Linked DNA regions of Homo sapiens: all the other regions are reported to be linked to region 4. The links are microRNA targets in miRTarBase. Many come from high-throughput screens and were not tested one by one. Region 4 holds a microRNA gene; each other region holds the end of a gene's coding sequence.
What was found. The annotated mature microRNA hsa-miR-4511 reads GAAGAACUGUUGCAUUUGCCCU and lies in region 4 at 1,871-1,892, opposite strand. An mRNA with a match to its seed (bases 2 to 7 or 8) in the 3' UTR can be bound and repressed. Matches are read on the target gene's strand: a 7mer-m8 pairs with bases 2 to 8, a 7mer-A1 pairs with bases 2 to 7 and ends in A, and an 8mer does both.

Region 1: the mRNA of CUL4B is a reported target of hsa-miR-4511. Seed matches in the 3' UTR shown: 7mer-A1 at 825-831.
Region 2: miRTarBase lists GMNN as a target of hsa-miR-4511. Seed matches in the 3' UTR shown: 7mer-m8 at 3,182-3,188.
Region 3: the mRNA of ARHGAP42 is a reported target of hsa-miR-4511. Seed matches in the 3' UTR shown: 7mer-m8 at 888-894.

What each region holds. Positions count from the first base shown.
Region 1 is chrX:120,523,262-120,527,261 of GRCh38, reverse strand. It overlaps CUL4B (cullin 4B), which reads left to right. Exons shown (of 20, transcript NM_001079872.2): 20 at 406-3,404. The coding sequence ends at 501. Among named protein-coding and RNA genes, the nearest start is that of CUL4B, 36 kb to the left of the region's middle.
Region 2 is chr6:24,785,041-24,789,040 of GRCh38, reverse strand. GMNN (geminin DNA replication inhibitor) reads right to left here. Exons shown (of 7, transcript NM_015895.5): 7 at 2,942-3,403. The coding sequence ends at 3,242. Among named protein-coding and RNA genes, the nearest start is that of ARMH2, 12 kb to the left of the region's middle.
Region 3 is chr11:100,988,035-100,992,034 of GRCh38, forward strand. It overlaps ARHGAP42 (Rho GTPase activating protein 42), which reads left to right. Exons shown (of 24, transcript NM_152432.4): 24 at 679-4,000. The coding sequence ends at 767. Among named protein-coding and RNA genes, the nearest start is that of SNORD13I, 56 kb to the left of the region's middle.
Region 4 is chr15:65,717,427-65,721,580 of GRCh38, forward strand. It overlaps MIR4511 (microRNA 4511), which reads right to left and starts at 1,906; the gene lies at 1,820-1,906. DENND4A (DENN domain containing 4A) reads right to left here. Exons shown (of 33, transcript NM_001320835.1): 13 at 352-570.

The sequences.
Region 1 (4,000 bases), not on the chromosome of region 4:
ATATGGTGACACCCCATCTCTACCAAAAATACAAAAATTAGCCAGGCGTGGTGGCTTGTGTCTAGTCCCAGCTACTCGGGAAGCTGAGGCAGAAGAATCACTTGAACCCAGGAGGTGGAGGTTGCAGTGAGCCAAAGTGGTGCCACTGCAGTCCAGCCTGGGTGACAGAGCGAGACTCCGTCTCAAAAAAAAAAAAAAAGAATCTTCAACGTGTATAAAACATTTTTTAACCTGGTTTATTTTCATGATACTTTTCTCTAAAAAAGAGATTTAAATAAATAAAAATTTTAAAAAAGGAGATTAAATTCATGAGCCGAAACTGTTGTCTTTTTAATGGGGTATTAACTAAATGGGCTTGAGCCAATGATAATGAACTTTACATTGAAAATTTGCCTTCTCTTACAGCCTGCTGATCTTAAGAAGAGAATAGAATCTTTAATTGACCGGGACTACATGGAAAGAGATAAAGAAAATCCAAACCAGTACAACTATATTGCATAGAATGTTGGCCTTGCAGCATTTGGTGTCATATGCAGTAGCCAGTGGATAAACTAACCTGTTGATTCAATATTATTTGACTCCTTTTTTACTACCGATGACCAAATGAAGCAGTGTAATTAATGGAAATAGTTGAGTGGACTTTTTCTCAGTGGTTAACATGCCCATTTTAAAGAGTAATACTTACCTTTAAGAAGAATGTTGTTGAACTCTTTGCATGTTATTTAGTATGATGTGCAGAAAACACTTAAGAACGTACCTGGTCTTCATGAATTCCTCTTTGGAACTGGGAAAGAGATCCCTGTGGCTATTAAAAAGGGGGGAGGGTTCTTACACACCATTAATTATGAAGCAAAAGGTTTATTTGCTTAAAATGTCATTTAAAGATACTTAAACTGCATGCAAACTTTATTTACTGTACAGAGTTCTGGATGTATTTATCAAATAGAAAAACCACCCTTGACTTGGTTGTTCACCCGTTTTGTGATTTCCCTTGAAAAGAGAAATGAATTGTCATAGCTATTGATATTTTACTAGGTGATGTTCTGTTACACTGAAAGGGATGTTTTTTAAAAAAAATTATTTGGAAACAAGTTTTCAAGTAGGGGGACAGTTGCTTACATAATATCTTGTATATTCACATCCTAAAAATTTTCATTTATGAGTATGGGATGTGTGTATATGGCTTAGCCCCAAGTTAACTGTGCTGATTAACAAGTACTTATAAAAATAGCTAAAGTAGAAAATTAATGATCAGTTGTACTAGAGGAACATCATAGAAGAGAAAAATCCAACTCTTTATATTAAAAATGAATACAATAAGAAAATTGCAAAAGAGACCAAAATGAACGTGTTTTGTAAATTGTTACAGGAGCAAAAACTTTGCAACTAGTTTTCAACATACTTTAGACTTTAAATGTTGTTTGGACAGTTTTGTCTTCAACTTGGACCAATTGTAGATTGTTACAGGCTTCCTAGGATTTAGCATTCCTATTTTCTCTACCAAAGTTTTTTTTAGAAGCATCCCAACTCTTCTCTTTGTTGATAAATAAGCCTTTCCTGTCATCTTCATTTTAACTTGCTAAAACCCTAGATACAAAGGTCCTCCCTCATTTTTCCCACAGAGCCCCTGTTTGGGAATTTGAGATTCTGTGTCATGCTGGTTTTCCTTTCAGAATTGCTTGAAATCGAGTTCTCTTAGCCACTGGACACCTAGTTTTCAGGAGAATGTCCCAAGATTGTTTATATATACAAAATGGCAAAAGTACTGTTTTTCGAATTGATAATTCAAGCAAAGGCTTCTCTTTACTGTCACTGATTTTTTTTTGTTTTTATTTTGTTTCCTTGTTTCTATTTCCTTGAAGCTTTGAAGGGAGGAGAAGCAGAAAATTTTGTTTATGTTTGTTAAAAATCAGAACTACTTAATGCTTTTTGCCACAGCATATTTCCTTGCCTGTTGGAGCCGTTAGGAAGATTACCTATGTCCTAATCTTCAACCTGAGAAGATTTTTGACTCTTGTGTCTACTGTTGATTGTTTGCTTGAGTTCTCAAAGACCTGTGGCCAGGTATTTTAAAAAGTCGTCTATTTCTTTCTAGTTGCATCAACTTGCACACTGGTGTCTAACTATATGTGGTATTCGGAACTTGTAATTCTTATTGAGCAGCCATTGCCTATATTTTCTCAGCTCCTCACTGATTTCTTTATATGAGCTCAGCTGACAAGCAAATGCAGCTATTTTGTTTACCCTCTCTTCATACCGGACCATCAACAACAGTGTTCTAACTCATCCCTGATGGTCTGTGAGATGTAGACTATTACACAAGATTCAAGTTACTCGTAAGCAACTTTTAGATAGAGTTGGTCCTGTTAGGAGGAGACTCTTGATGTCACCTTCAGTATCTTGAAAGCGGGTCCCCTCCCCGAGGCTCTTAATTCTTTGAAAACTTGATGCTGTTTCAGCTGAAAAATTAGCAAGACTGTTAAAAAAAAAAAGTTGAGGGGAGCTGTTTAAGAAACTGAAAAGTAATTGCAAACTACATTGGATAATTGTGACTTTCAGTTGTTGTTCTGTATCAGTTGAATTTTTGTGCTCTTTTCCCTGTGTACGTGGTGGTTCTATTTTTCTCCAATAAAACTTTTATTTAAAAAAAGTTTCTAGAGAAGATCTTTAAAATTCAAGTATTGTAAGAAAGTTATAAAATCACAGGACTTAAAATCTTCCTAACAACTTCTAATGAACTCACATTTGTTGATTTTGTTATTTTTAAACTTTTTAAAAATTTTGTAATGGTTTTGTGGTAATGCTATAAGAGTATGGGGGAGGGCATGGTTAACAGGGTGAGGAAAATTCCCAGGAATCCTCAAGGTGGATAATTATTCTTAAACATGCGGATACAAGTATAAACATTGCTTCATTCAAATCCTCAGTGTCAAATTGTTTCATAAAGTCAATATGAAATGAGTCTAGATTTGAGTTCAGGGGAGAAGAAAAGATTACTCTTAGTTATGGCATTTGCTCTGCCTTTTCTGTTAATAGTTTTTTGAGTTCTGGGCCAGATACTCTCAGAGTAAGATGTTCCTCAAAGTTTTTGAACCCAGTTCCTGAGTCTGCTTGAATGGTCTTAATATGATGTCTAGCCATACTCTTGAAATTTTTGCTGTGTATGTGAGTGTACAGTTCAGAAAACCAGTTTATCTGGGCATCTGGATCTAAAGATTTGAGAAGTTTGTTTTTTAATCTGGATATTCATAAATCTTTTAAAATGAGCTGGTCTTTGTTTTCATGACCACTCTGTTTAATGCTGTGAATGGCAGGAGTGTTGTGAGCGTGTTCTATTCTCTTATTTACATAAAATTGCCAAAACAAATTGTTCATTAAAAAGAAAAGAGCAGTACTGATGAAAATTTGCATAATTATGCTTTGTAAAATGATATCTTGCTAATGCTTCATTAATGAATATTTTTCAGTGTCCTACAAAAAAACACCTGCTTTACATTTGAATACTGAAGTTTGTTCACCTGCAAACACTTGGTTGAAATCAAACACTTTGCTCAATTATTTTCCTTTTTCCCCTTGCTATTATAAAAAAGGGTATTTCTTCTTTTGAATGGACACATAATGTACCTTTATGTTTAACAATCCTTAGAAGTCATCTCTAGCATAGTGAAAAAGACTCTGACCTTTCTTTTGTAAAACCGTTTCTATTGGATGTAAAATATAAGAATGTGCTGCACTGGCATGTTAGAACTTAATAGTTTTGCCAGCTATAACAACAACAGATCCTCTTCATTTGTTCTCTAATTTCAAAACTTTTCTTTAATTTTTAAATTTTTTATTGTGGTAAAGTACACACAAAATTTACCATTCTAACCATGATAAAGTATACAATTCTGACATTTAGTACATTCACAATATTGTGCAGTCACCATTATGTAGTTCCAGAACATTTTCATCAACTCTAAAGGAAACTTGGCACCAATAAGCAGTCATTTCCCATTCC
Region 2 (4,000 bases), not on the chromosome of region 4:
GAGGCTGGAGTGCAGTGGCGCAATCTATGCTCACTGCAACTTCTGCCTCCCAGATTCAAGCAATTCTTGTGTGCCTCAGCCTCCCGAAGAGCTGTGACTACAGGTGTGCACCACCACGCCCAACTAATCTTTTGTATTTTTAGTAGACAAAGCATTTTGCCATGTTAGCCAGGCTGATGTTGAACTCCTGTCCTCAAGTGATCTGCCTGCCTCAGCCTCCCAAAGTGTAGGGATTACAGGCGTAGCCATCACACCCGGCTGACATGCTATACTAACATTTGATACCTAATTAAAAATCAGACTCATCTTCCACAGGAAATTCCTACAAATTCTCCATCACTAGGGTCAGTTCCCAGGGACTAGAAGCTTAAAATATGTCCCCCAAAACAGCCCCTACATGACCCTTAGGCAACTACTAATCTGCTTTCTCATTATACTTTGTAGTTTTGTGATTTTAAATAAATAGAAGCATACAGTATGTATTTACCTGGCTTCTTTCACACAACATTGAGATTCGTCCATGTGGCGTGTACCAATTTTTGTCCCCTTTTTATTGCTAAATAGTATTCCACTGTATAGTTATACCATAATTTATCCACTCAGTTACCAATGGATATTTGGGCTATTACAAATAAAGCTATGAAAATGTGTGAACTAGTCTTCATGTGGACATATGCTTTCGTTTCTCTTGGGTAAATACCCAGGGGTGGAATGGCTGAGTCATATAAAATGTGTATGTATAACTTTTAAGGAATTGTTCAACTTTTCCACAGCAGTTGTAGCATTTAGCACTGCCACCACCACTGCAGGAGGGTTTCAGATGTTTCACATCCTTAACACTCGATGGAGTTGTTTTTATTTTTCAAACTTAAAACAATTCTGAAAGGTATGTAGCAGTATCTGGTTGTCATTTAATTTGCACTTCCTTAATGACTAATGTTGAGCATCTTTTCATGCACTTAGTTTCCATCTCATACATACCCTAGTTCTTTATAGATACAAATCCTTTGTTGGCTATGTTCTGCAAATATGTTCCCCCAGTCTGTTCTTGCCTTTTCATTTGCTTGTCTTTCAAAAAGTTTTTAAAATTTACAACGTTTAATTTGAAGTTGATGCTTTTTTGTGTCCTATTTGAGAACTCTCTGCCAAACCCAAAGTCACTAAGAACTTTTCTATATAATCTAGAAGTTTTATGGTTTTAGCTACTACCTTAGTTTTTTAATCCCCTTCAATTCCCTCTCCTTTTGCTCCCCACCATCAAATTCTGGCATTTTACAAAAATACTTTCTATTTGTCAAGTCCCTATTCTACTTACCTATTTTCTTTCTTAACCATGCTAAAGGCCTCTCAACTGAGTCTCCTCATGCTCTAATCCAGAATATTCTTCAATTCCTTTAAAATTAATTTACCTATTAATCCTATCTTTAGGCTAGTGATCCACACCTGAAACACACAGAGCCACACTAACGTAATTGCCACTAGCTTCTTGTAGTGACTTAAATTAAAATGTCCATACCTCATTCACACTAGCCACACTTCAAGTGCTAAACAGCCACACAGAAATGGCTACCATACTGTACAGCAGATATTCTCATCATCCCAATAAGTTCTACTGGACAATGTTGTTATAGATTAATAATAGCTTCCATTTTTAAGACACTTAGCCTAGACACTAAAGGTTTTAATCTTCACGATAACACTATGAGGTAGGCTTTATCTCAGTATTAAAGAAAATTAAGGCCAGGCACGGTGGCTCACGCCTGTAATCCCAACACTCTGGAGGCCGAAGCAGGCGGATCGCTTGATGCCAGGAATTCAAGACCAGCCTGGGCAACATGGCGAAACCCCGTCTATATAAAAAATTAGCCAGGTGTGGTGGCACGCACCTGTAGTCTCAGCTACTTGGGAGGCTGAAGTGGGAAGATGACTTGCGCCCATCAGGTGGAGGCTGAAGTGAGCTGAGATTGCACCCCTGCACTCCCGCCTGGGTGACAGAGAGAGAAAATTAAGGTTCTATAAGGATGCTTACCTAAAACAATCCTTTCAAAAGCTTGAGGCCAGGCGTGGTGCCTCACACCTGTCATCCCAGCACTTTGGGAGGCTGAGGTGGGCGGATCACTTGGGGTCAGGAGTTCGAGACCAGCCTGGCCAACATGGTGAAACCCCGGCTCTACTAAAAATACAAAAACTAGCCAGGTGTGGTGGCAGGCACCTGTAATCGCAGCTACTCAGGAGGCTGAGGCAGAATCACTTGAACCAGGGAGGCAGAGGTTGCAGTGAGCCAAGATCATGCCATTGCACTCCAGCCTGGGCAACAAGAGCAAGACTCCGTCTCAAAGGAAAAAAAATAAAAGCATGACATTGCTCTTTATTGCCAATTTATACAAAACTACTTGTATGCCTCTCACAGAACTTTTTCAGTTCCAATGCTACATACCCCTAGTTTGTACTTTTCCTCCTTCAAAACTTAGTATATATGGGAAATCCCTAATGAATCTGACCCTACTCTTATTCTTCAATATTTACATACTTTGCACTATACCAATATGTGAAATAGAAAAGCTCCATAATTTTCAGCTATTCCTGATTTTTTCCGTCAAACTTCTACCCACTCCTCACTTTGTTTCTTGAGGATTATCACCATCATCCATCATTTTAAGCTTCCAAGAAGAGTCTGATCCTGCTAGCCAGTTGGGCCTCTCACTGTCTAATCAGATTCACTTGAAAAGCTTTTGGAAAATAGATTCTCATGCTCCATTCCAAAAACAACTTGTTAATATCAATAGTGTCTACAATGAGCTTGAGGTACAACAAAGTTTGGGAGTTAAAAACCTCAGCTATCTCAGTCTAAATACTTTAAGTTCGTTTTCTCCTTGTCTCCTCCAAGGTAGTTAGCAAAAGAATGGAAAGAGAACAACATAAAAGCATAGAAACAGACAAATTTTCTACACATACTCCTTATATTTCATTATTCTAAGTTATACACAATGTTCAACAGGAGTTTGAAGTTTATTTAGTAATAAACATAAGTCATGGCTGACAACTGAGAAAATCCTATTCACATAAACCATCATAGATTAAAAATACATAGTATTTGTACTTTAATGCAATAGGGTCCCAGGATTCAAACAAGGAAATTTGATTCCAGAGTTGGCATTATGTAGTTATGTACTCTGCTACAAAGAACTAGTGGAGGTAAACTTCGGCAGTAAAATTCTCAACAGTCAAATATTAATGCATTTCATATACATGGCTTTGCATCCGTAGAGGAAGATACAGTTCCTTCAGCACACGTGCCAATTTCTGAGTCTTCCACTAGAGAATCCTCAACAGTTTCTTCTTCAGAATCAAATTCCTGATTATCCAGTGATTCAAAATTATCCAGAGGTTCACCATTCAGTCTCTTTTAAAGAATAAACCAATAATTTATTGTAAAAATGTTAAAACCTAAGCTGATCAGCATACTGATATAGCTGACCCGTATAGCATACTGATATAGCTATGAGATTTTTTTCATCTTGCCCCTCAATAAATTCATTTATAAACAGTATTATATCAAAGTCTCTACCATGCTAGATCATAGTCAGCAAAGTCAAAGTGTTTAATAATTTGTCTTTTTTTTTTAAAAAGCACTGAAATTATTTCAGAGTATAAACAGGTACTTCCCCAATCAGCTGCAAGGACAAGTAGGTGTTCTACATTTCCAATCAGCTGTGGACTAATTCTTTTAAGGCAGTTAAGACAGCTACCACAGTATCTCCAAATGAAAACTTCAAATATTAATTCTATCATGGATCTCAAATGTAAAAGGTCACAATTCAGTTACATGAAGTTTTGATTTGAAAAACTTTCTTCCTATCAGCAAGAAAAACTTTTTGCAAACATGAATAAATAAATCTTAAAACCTTTTTAAGGTCAAGTCTGATAAAGCAACACCAGGCTAATTCTTACAAACATATTAGCTACTTACAAAATGTTTTAAAGTCAGATAAAACCACAA
Region 3 (4,000 bases), not on the chromosome of region 4:
GGAGAATGGCTTGAACCAGGGAGGCGGAGGTTGCAGTGAGCTGAGATGGCACCACTGCACTCCAGCCTGGCAACACAGCAAGACTCTGTCTATAAATAAATAAAACATTTTAAAATTCCCTCTGGATTCATTCCTCTCCTGCAGGCATTTGTGTGTATGTACCTGTTTGTACATGTGTGTGAGACAGAGAGATTGTTTTATTTGACTATGTGAATGCAAAGGACATTCCAACTTTAGAGGGCTGTGACATTGTTTTGTTTGGACGTTTGAGTTGAGTGTATAGTTGGACCCTCTACATTCCAGAATTTTTGCATGCACACTTTAACCAACCATGGATCAAAAAGGTTGGAAAATAAATAGATAAATAATAATACAAATTTTAAAAATATATAGTATAACAACTATTTACATAGTATTTACATTGTAAAAGGAATTACAAATAATCTAGAAATGATTTAAAGCATACAGGGGGATGTCCCTAGGGTATATGCAAATATTACATCATTTTATATCAGGGACATGAGCATGCACAGTTTCTGGTATCCACAAGGGGTCCTGGAACTAATCCCCCACAGATACTGAGGACTGACAATCCGATGTGGGTGTTTAACCCATCTGTTTATATAATTATTTGACACTAATGTTGACTGAGTGCTATTTATTTATTTATTTTGCCAGTGTACCCATCAGTGGAACCAGGATGGTTAAAGGCAACTTATGAAGGCAAAACAGGACTAGTTCCAGAAAATTATGTTGTCTTCCTCTAATACTATTTAGTGGATGGCAGTATCTTCATGGTATCCATGGTAACGAATAAATGCTATGATTTTATCTGACACAGATACACGGGGATCAGCCCACTAAGTGAAAACAGTCAATTTCTATCAAGTTCTTCACCAGCAGACTATGTAGCTCCTTATTAATGGAAAAAAAGATTTAAATTGTTGGCCATTCTTTTTTGGTTGGTTTCTTATTTTAAAATATCTTACTTGTGAAAAATGTGTTTTTGGATAATATGTAACTCTCCACAATGTCGCTTCCGTAGCAATTGTAGAGTTTCAAATACTGTGTTAAATACTGTATCCCAGAAATTTGGAAACCAGAAATCTGCTATATGGATTTTGAGATCTGTCCTTTACTGCCTGGCATTCTCTGAGGATCTCTGAAATTGTTACTTAAAAATGTAATTTAAATTGTTCATTTATTGTTTTTTTTTTCTTAGAAATATACTGCTTTTATATATGATTGTTTTGCTGGTCCTAAACATTTCAAGGATGTAAGTCTTTGTTTTAATATAACTTTATTTGTTTTCCAAGTAGATGATAATATTCAAAAGCAATAATGTATATGATATCTATAAAGGAAGCAAAATTAAGTCATACACTGATTCCACTGTAAACAATCTGTCCAGAATTCCAGACACCTTCAGCAAACTTTTTCTGTAAAGGCCTGATAGCAAATATTTTTGTGGTGGGTTGAATTTGGCTTATGGGTTATAGTTTGCTGACACCTAGTTTAGAGGGTGTGTAAAACTATCTTCATAACTTTGAGATTTTTATAAAATTTTACATGAAAATATACTGATAAATTATATGCACATATTTTCTACCAGTAGCATTATAGTGGCATCATAGAAGAATATTTACCAATGATGGGGAAACTGTAAAACTACAGTATCAAGGCATACAACTTAAATTCCACTTGGAAGATTGTAAAGTGTCAAAGTATTTTAATGATAATTTAATTTGGGCTTTTGAAATGTTCTTCTACAAATGAAAAAGATGTTTAAAAACGTTACAAGGGAAGCTATGCCTTCTGAAGTCTATCCTTAGTTGAAACAGAAAATAAACACAAAGGTACAAGATCCTTAAATTATTTTGAACCACAGAGGTTGAAATTGTTTTGTGATCTTCAGCAGAAATAAAATCTGTACATGATTTTCTTTTATGCCTTTTAGTTTACAGTCTTTATTAGCAATTTCAGTGAATTTGTAGAGCATAGTAATAGGTATTTACTGTCCACTTATATATATCAGCATCTGGTCATGCACGAACCATTAATTCTATATTTCTATTTCAATAATTCTAATATATTATTTCTATAAATGTAATATCTGTATGTGGCAAAGAGCCTTTCTTCTCAAGATCCTGAAAAGCTGGTTACCTGCCCTTTGAGTGCCACAGTCCTGAACTGCTTGTTCTTGACATCTTGCATATTACTTCAGAGTTCCCCACTGTGCAGACTCTCAGGTATTAACTGTAAAAAACTCTTTACATGCCATTATTATCTGTAATCTCTATCTCTTCTACTTTAAATTAATGTTTCTAGAATTAATAGGTTAAATACACATACACACACACAACTATGCCTCAGAAAAGTTAGGCTTTTACAAATAAAAAGAATAAGATTAGAATTAACAAGTAGAGAGAATAACGGTAGGCAGAGTCAGAATCAGGAATAAATATCAGTGAATCAAAAGAATGAAAAATATTATGTAATAAAAATTAGCAATGTAATGTAAACGTTTGATAAAAGAGTATCTTTTTCTTTTATCTCTTACTGTTGACCTCTGTGCACTGTAATAAGGTGTGTTGCTGGATCTTCTTGGTCGAGGTCCTTGGTGACCTTAGTAGTAATAACAGCATTGCTGACACCCTAATTGCCCTCTGCTGGAACAGAAGGTAGTTTTCCAGTGTACCAGTCCCTTAGTCTATACAGCACCCTTGGTTTAAGCACACTTGCCATCATCTGGTATCCTGCTAGACTAGAATCTCTTAAAAGCAAATTGGTTTTCTTTCAAAGACCAACTTGACTCCAAAGAGAGATTCAGAATCCTACTTCTCCTGCTGCTGCATAAAGAATCTCAACCTTCATTTTATTTGAACACGGACCAAAGTGTTCCTGCTTCTGAGTTGTCTGTAAGCTAATTCTGCAGATGTTCCATTCAGATTTAAAGCTTTTTTACTGCATAGGATGTGGATAGGAAGCCTAACTATTGTATCTGATGGCAAGGCATATGTTGCAGCCACAGTACTGGCTATGGTCCCTTTGCTGAAACAAGCTACAGAAGCACTGATTCAAGTTGTGCTTGTGCTTGAACTTTTAATCTTCTAGATTTGTGAGGATGGCTCTTTTTCCTTCATAATGGATTACAATGTAAGCAAGTCATGGCCATATACTGGAGACGGGCTAAAGCTGCTTTTCCCTTAAAGTAAGTTTCCTACAGATAAGGTATTTATGAGCACTGAGAAAGTCAGGACATGTACTCTAAATCACACAGAATGTTAATTCCACAGGAAGGCAATGCCAGACATTGAAAGAGGATCACATTCAACTTTTAATAGTAGTTCAATAACAAAACCTTAGCTTTTCAGGAACAATGTGAAGATACATTAGAATTGCCACATCCATATCTTCAAAACACGCAACCTCTGCACCCTAATAACTGCTTACGGTATAATCAGTATGATGATGAGATTGAGGGGGTCTAAATTTAAGTTCCTTATCTCCTGAGTTATGTGAAAATATCCCTCAGTACAAAACATTTGTGTGTTTCACAGATGACTCTCTTGTTTTGCCGTAATGCTACCAAGTTTATGGAAACTAGTCAACTGAAGGATTTTTCTGTTGTGTTATGTGTAAATGTCTGAACAGTAAAATCATCTGTGTATTCCTGTAACATTCACGAAGTATGAGGAAGTGGGTTTCTCCTTGTTTGATGTGAGTGGTTTTGCTTGTTGCATGGGTTCCCTGTGCTTTGTAACTTGCATGAACACAACCAGGTTTCTCAACAATGATTTGTCTGCTGACTCTTTTCAGAGATAGTGAAGGAAAAAAAATGTATTAAAACCCCAAATTATCTAGGTTTCCAAGTAGGAAAAATAAAGATACATATGACTTTTATTATTATTCGATGATAATTAGCTTTATATAATGTGGCATCCTTCATAAAAATTCACTATGTTGTGAGGCAAACAGATTTCTCACTATCATCCAGTGT
Region 4 (4,154 bases):
TCAAGCCTGGAGGTGACCATCTCAGGGGTTCCTCTTATCCCCAACACTGCCTGCTGCTCTGAAAGCTGAAAGTATCAGTATCTCAACACACATGTGACACAAAAGTGTAGTCGGTATATGGTTGGGAGGCTCTATACTTTTCTTCTGCATATCTGCTAATGGGATTATATCTAATATGCCTGAAAAATAACTAGTCCTATGGAAATGGGTAACCAACAAAGCTAGTATTCAGATTCTCCTCAAAATAGGTATGTATTCTCATAAATATGAGCTATTAATACAGACAGCAAATGAATCATCACAAAGTTAAGCTCAATAACCTGAAAGCTTTAAAACTATGCAGTCACTCACCTTGTAGGGCAAAGAGAGAGGCTGCATCTGTGGCTGTCTCAGATGGGGCTTGTGTTATTGGCCTTAAGTATGATCTGTAACCTTTTAAAATAGAGGCCATGAAAAACAAAAATGCCTCTTGGATTTCCAAATCTATCATGTGCAACCTCTTTCCAGAATTAAAATCATAGTCATTTATTGCTAAATCCATGAGTCCATCATCTCTCGGTCTCTGCTGCACTGTGAAGACATACAGTGTTAGTGTTTTCTCCAAACTCACAAAACACTCATGATGGTACCAATATAATTTTGTTGTATTTTCAAAAGGACCCAAGCTACCTCAACTCTTTGTTTACATAACTTAATCATACGTAAACCTTAGCAAAGCTTGCCATAGCATTTTGTAGTCTCCGTTGAGTAAATTTTATCCAAATTAAACACAAAGCTACCCGTTTATCTCACTACCACCAGGAAAAAAAAAGCTCAGGTCGGTCATGGTAGCTCATGCGTGCAATCCTAGACCAAGGCAGGAGGATCACTTGAGGCTAGGAGTTCAAGACTAGCCTGGGCAACATAAGAGAGATTCTGTCTTTACAAAATTTTTTTTAAGTTCATGTTCTAAAATAACTATATATAAGTTAATAATGATTGTAACCGAGAAGGCAATAGAATATAAGAAAGCTGTTCAACATAAATATATATCACTCATAGGCTCACCAAGTATTGGCATTGTTCAGAAAGAATCTGAACAACCATGTCATCTATACCTCCCACACCACTACTATTTTGCACATGCCCTGAGAGGGGAAATGACCTGACATACGAATAAGGAGAATAATAAAAAAGGAACATAAACCCAGATCTCTCAAATCTTCATACAGAATTGTCTCCATTGTTCTCTCACCATCAAGTGATTATGGTGAGATTATACATAAACTAGTACATTTGAAAATATTTCAAAAACTGCCCCCCTTTCCCTCAAAAGTTTTGCATGTTTTTTTTCCTTTTTTTTTTTTTTTTTTTTTTTTTTTTTGGTTTTTTGAGACAGAGTCTTGGTCTGTCACCCAGGCTGGAGTACAGTGGCACGATCTCAGCTTACTGCAGCCCCTACCTCCCGGGCTCCAGAGATTCTCCTGCCTCAGCCTCCTTGGTAGCTGGGATTACAGGTGCCCATCACCACGCCCAGCTAATTTTTGTATTTTTAGTAGAGACGGGGTTTCACCGTGTTGGCGAGGCTAGTCTCGAACTCCTGACCTCAGGTGATCCGCCTACCTTGGCCTCCCAAAGTGCTGGGATTATAGGCATGAGGCACCATGCCCAGCCACTTTGCATGTTATGTGCACATACTTGCTCTCACACTCTTTCCATATGAATATATATAAAACATACATATTTTATATAATACATATATATGTCTTTTTCAAAGTGGCAGTGACATTCCCTCTTGTATTCATTCATGTTTTTGTCTTACATATTGAAAACAGACTTTTAAAAAAAGGGAAAGAAGAACTATTGCATTTACCCTGTGCAAACTGAGTGCAGGGCAAATGCAACAGTTCTTCTTTCCCTTTTTTTTTTTTTTAATATAAGTACCTGCAGGAAGAACACACAAGGATTAAAATATAAAAAACAATTCTTCTTCCTGGACAATTCAATGCTAAAGCCATTAGATAGTAAACATGTAATTTTATAGTAGAGAAGTCTAGTAGACACCACCTTAATCAAGTGATCGAAGTGAATATCTTCATCAATAATGGGACAAAGCAAAATAGTGTGCGATCTGATATAAGGACGCAATGAGAGAGACACAGCATCACTTCTGTGATATTCCTGTCAAAGATGTGTGACCTGGGCCGGGTGCAGTGGCTCACATCTGTAATCCTAGCACTTTAGGAGGCTGCAGTGGGAGGATCACTTGAGCCCAGAAGTTCAAGACCAGCATGGCAATATAGTGAGATCCCATCTCTACAGAATTTTTTTTTTTTTTAATTAGCTGGGTGTGATAGCTTGTGTCTGTAGTCCCAGCTTCTCAGGAGGCTGAGATGGGAGGATCACTTGAGCCTGGGAGCTTGTGGCTGCCATAAACCGTGATCGCGCCACTGCACTCCAGCCTGGGTGACACAGTGAGACACCCTGTCTCAAAAAAAAGAAAATAGATGGGTGGCCTGTATTTATTATGAGAATGCTCAGACAAACCCACACCATGGACAATTCTACAATGGTAAGTATAATCTTCAAAGATGGCAGAGAATCTGAGGAACTGTTCAGAAGGAAAGGCAAATAAAGAGACTTGAAACTACATACAACACCTGATTTGGAACTGGATCCTTTTGTTATAAAGAACATTAAGATGATAACTGGCAAAACCTGAATGTGGTCTGAGGATTAGGACAGCAGTAATTCTCAATGTTAATTTTCTGATTTTTATGGTTACATTGTAGTGATGTCAAAGAATGTACTGGGTAGGAAATACATTCTATTCAAATGTCATGAAGCATCTAATGTCAAAGGGTCAGGAAAAAAGTTTGTTATTACTTCAAAATTTTAAAATATAAGGAACAATTAATCGTCTTCGAGAGTTTTTGGAGGAGTTCTTATTGTCTAAAAAAGTGAAAATACTGGAAGAACGTAAGGCATTGGAACCAGAAAGCCTAGGATTTTTTTTTTTTTTTTGAGATGGAGTCTCACTCTGTCTCCCAGGCTGGAGTGCAGTGGCACAATCTTGGTTCACTGCAACCTTTGCCTCCCAGGTTCAAGCTATTCTCCAGCCTCAGCCTCCCAAGTAGCTGGGACAACAAGCGTGCACCACCACATCCGGGTAATTTTTGTATTTTTAGTAGAGACGGGGTTTTACTATGTCGGCCAGGCTGGTCTCGAACTCCTGACCTCAGGTGATCCACCTGCCTCGGCCTCCCAAAGTGCTGGGATTACAGGTATGAGCCACTACGCCCAGTCAAGAAAGCCTAGGTTTTAATCCCAGCTTCATCCTTGTTAACTGTATGATCTGTGAGAAGCTACTATACGCCTCCTTCAATCTCATTCTCATAGCTGTAACGTAAAAGAATGTATGTGAATGTGCTCTGAAGCTATAAAGCGTTAGAGTCCTTAATTATCAGTATTATTTAAATGTTTGTAGTTTTAACCTTTGAGATTCTGCCTTTCACAAAAGTTGAATGGGCTGTTTCATTGATTATATATATATATATATATATATATATATATATATTTGTACTTTTTGCAGAGACAAGGTTTCAGCATGTTGCCCAGGATGGTCTCAAACTGCTGGACTCAAGCGATCTCCCTGCCTCAGCCTCCCAAAGTGCTGGGATTACAGGCCTGAGCCACCCTGCCCAGCCAATGTTAATAATATTTGAATATTGCTACAATAGCTGTTGGGCTTCTTAGCTATTCAAAAGAAGTGCAAACACTTTTAGAAAGCAATTAACTAGGTAACAAATGATATTACATGCATGATTTATTTGTTCCATAAGGCAAAATTTTGTTACGTTTTATGTAATTTGTTTAATATCCCAATACTTATGAGCTACTTTGGAATCATCTACTTGTTATGAAGTGTACTTTGTAAATACTGTTTTTATCCATGTCTATTTCCAACTACACTATACACTATGATGAATCCTCAAGGGTGTAGGCTACCTCCTATGCTTATGTTGTACCTAAACATAAATGTGTATTACATAAATGGGTCATCTGCTATAATACCAAGAAGATCAGATAAAGAAATGAAGGTTTAATTTTCCTTAACAGTAGAAAAGAGCATGGTGATAAAGCATTGCGAGGCATTTGGACTTAAAGATAGCTTT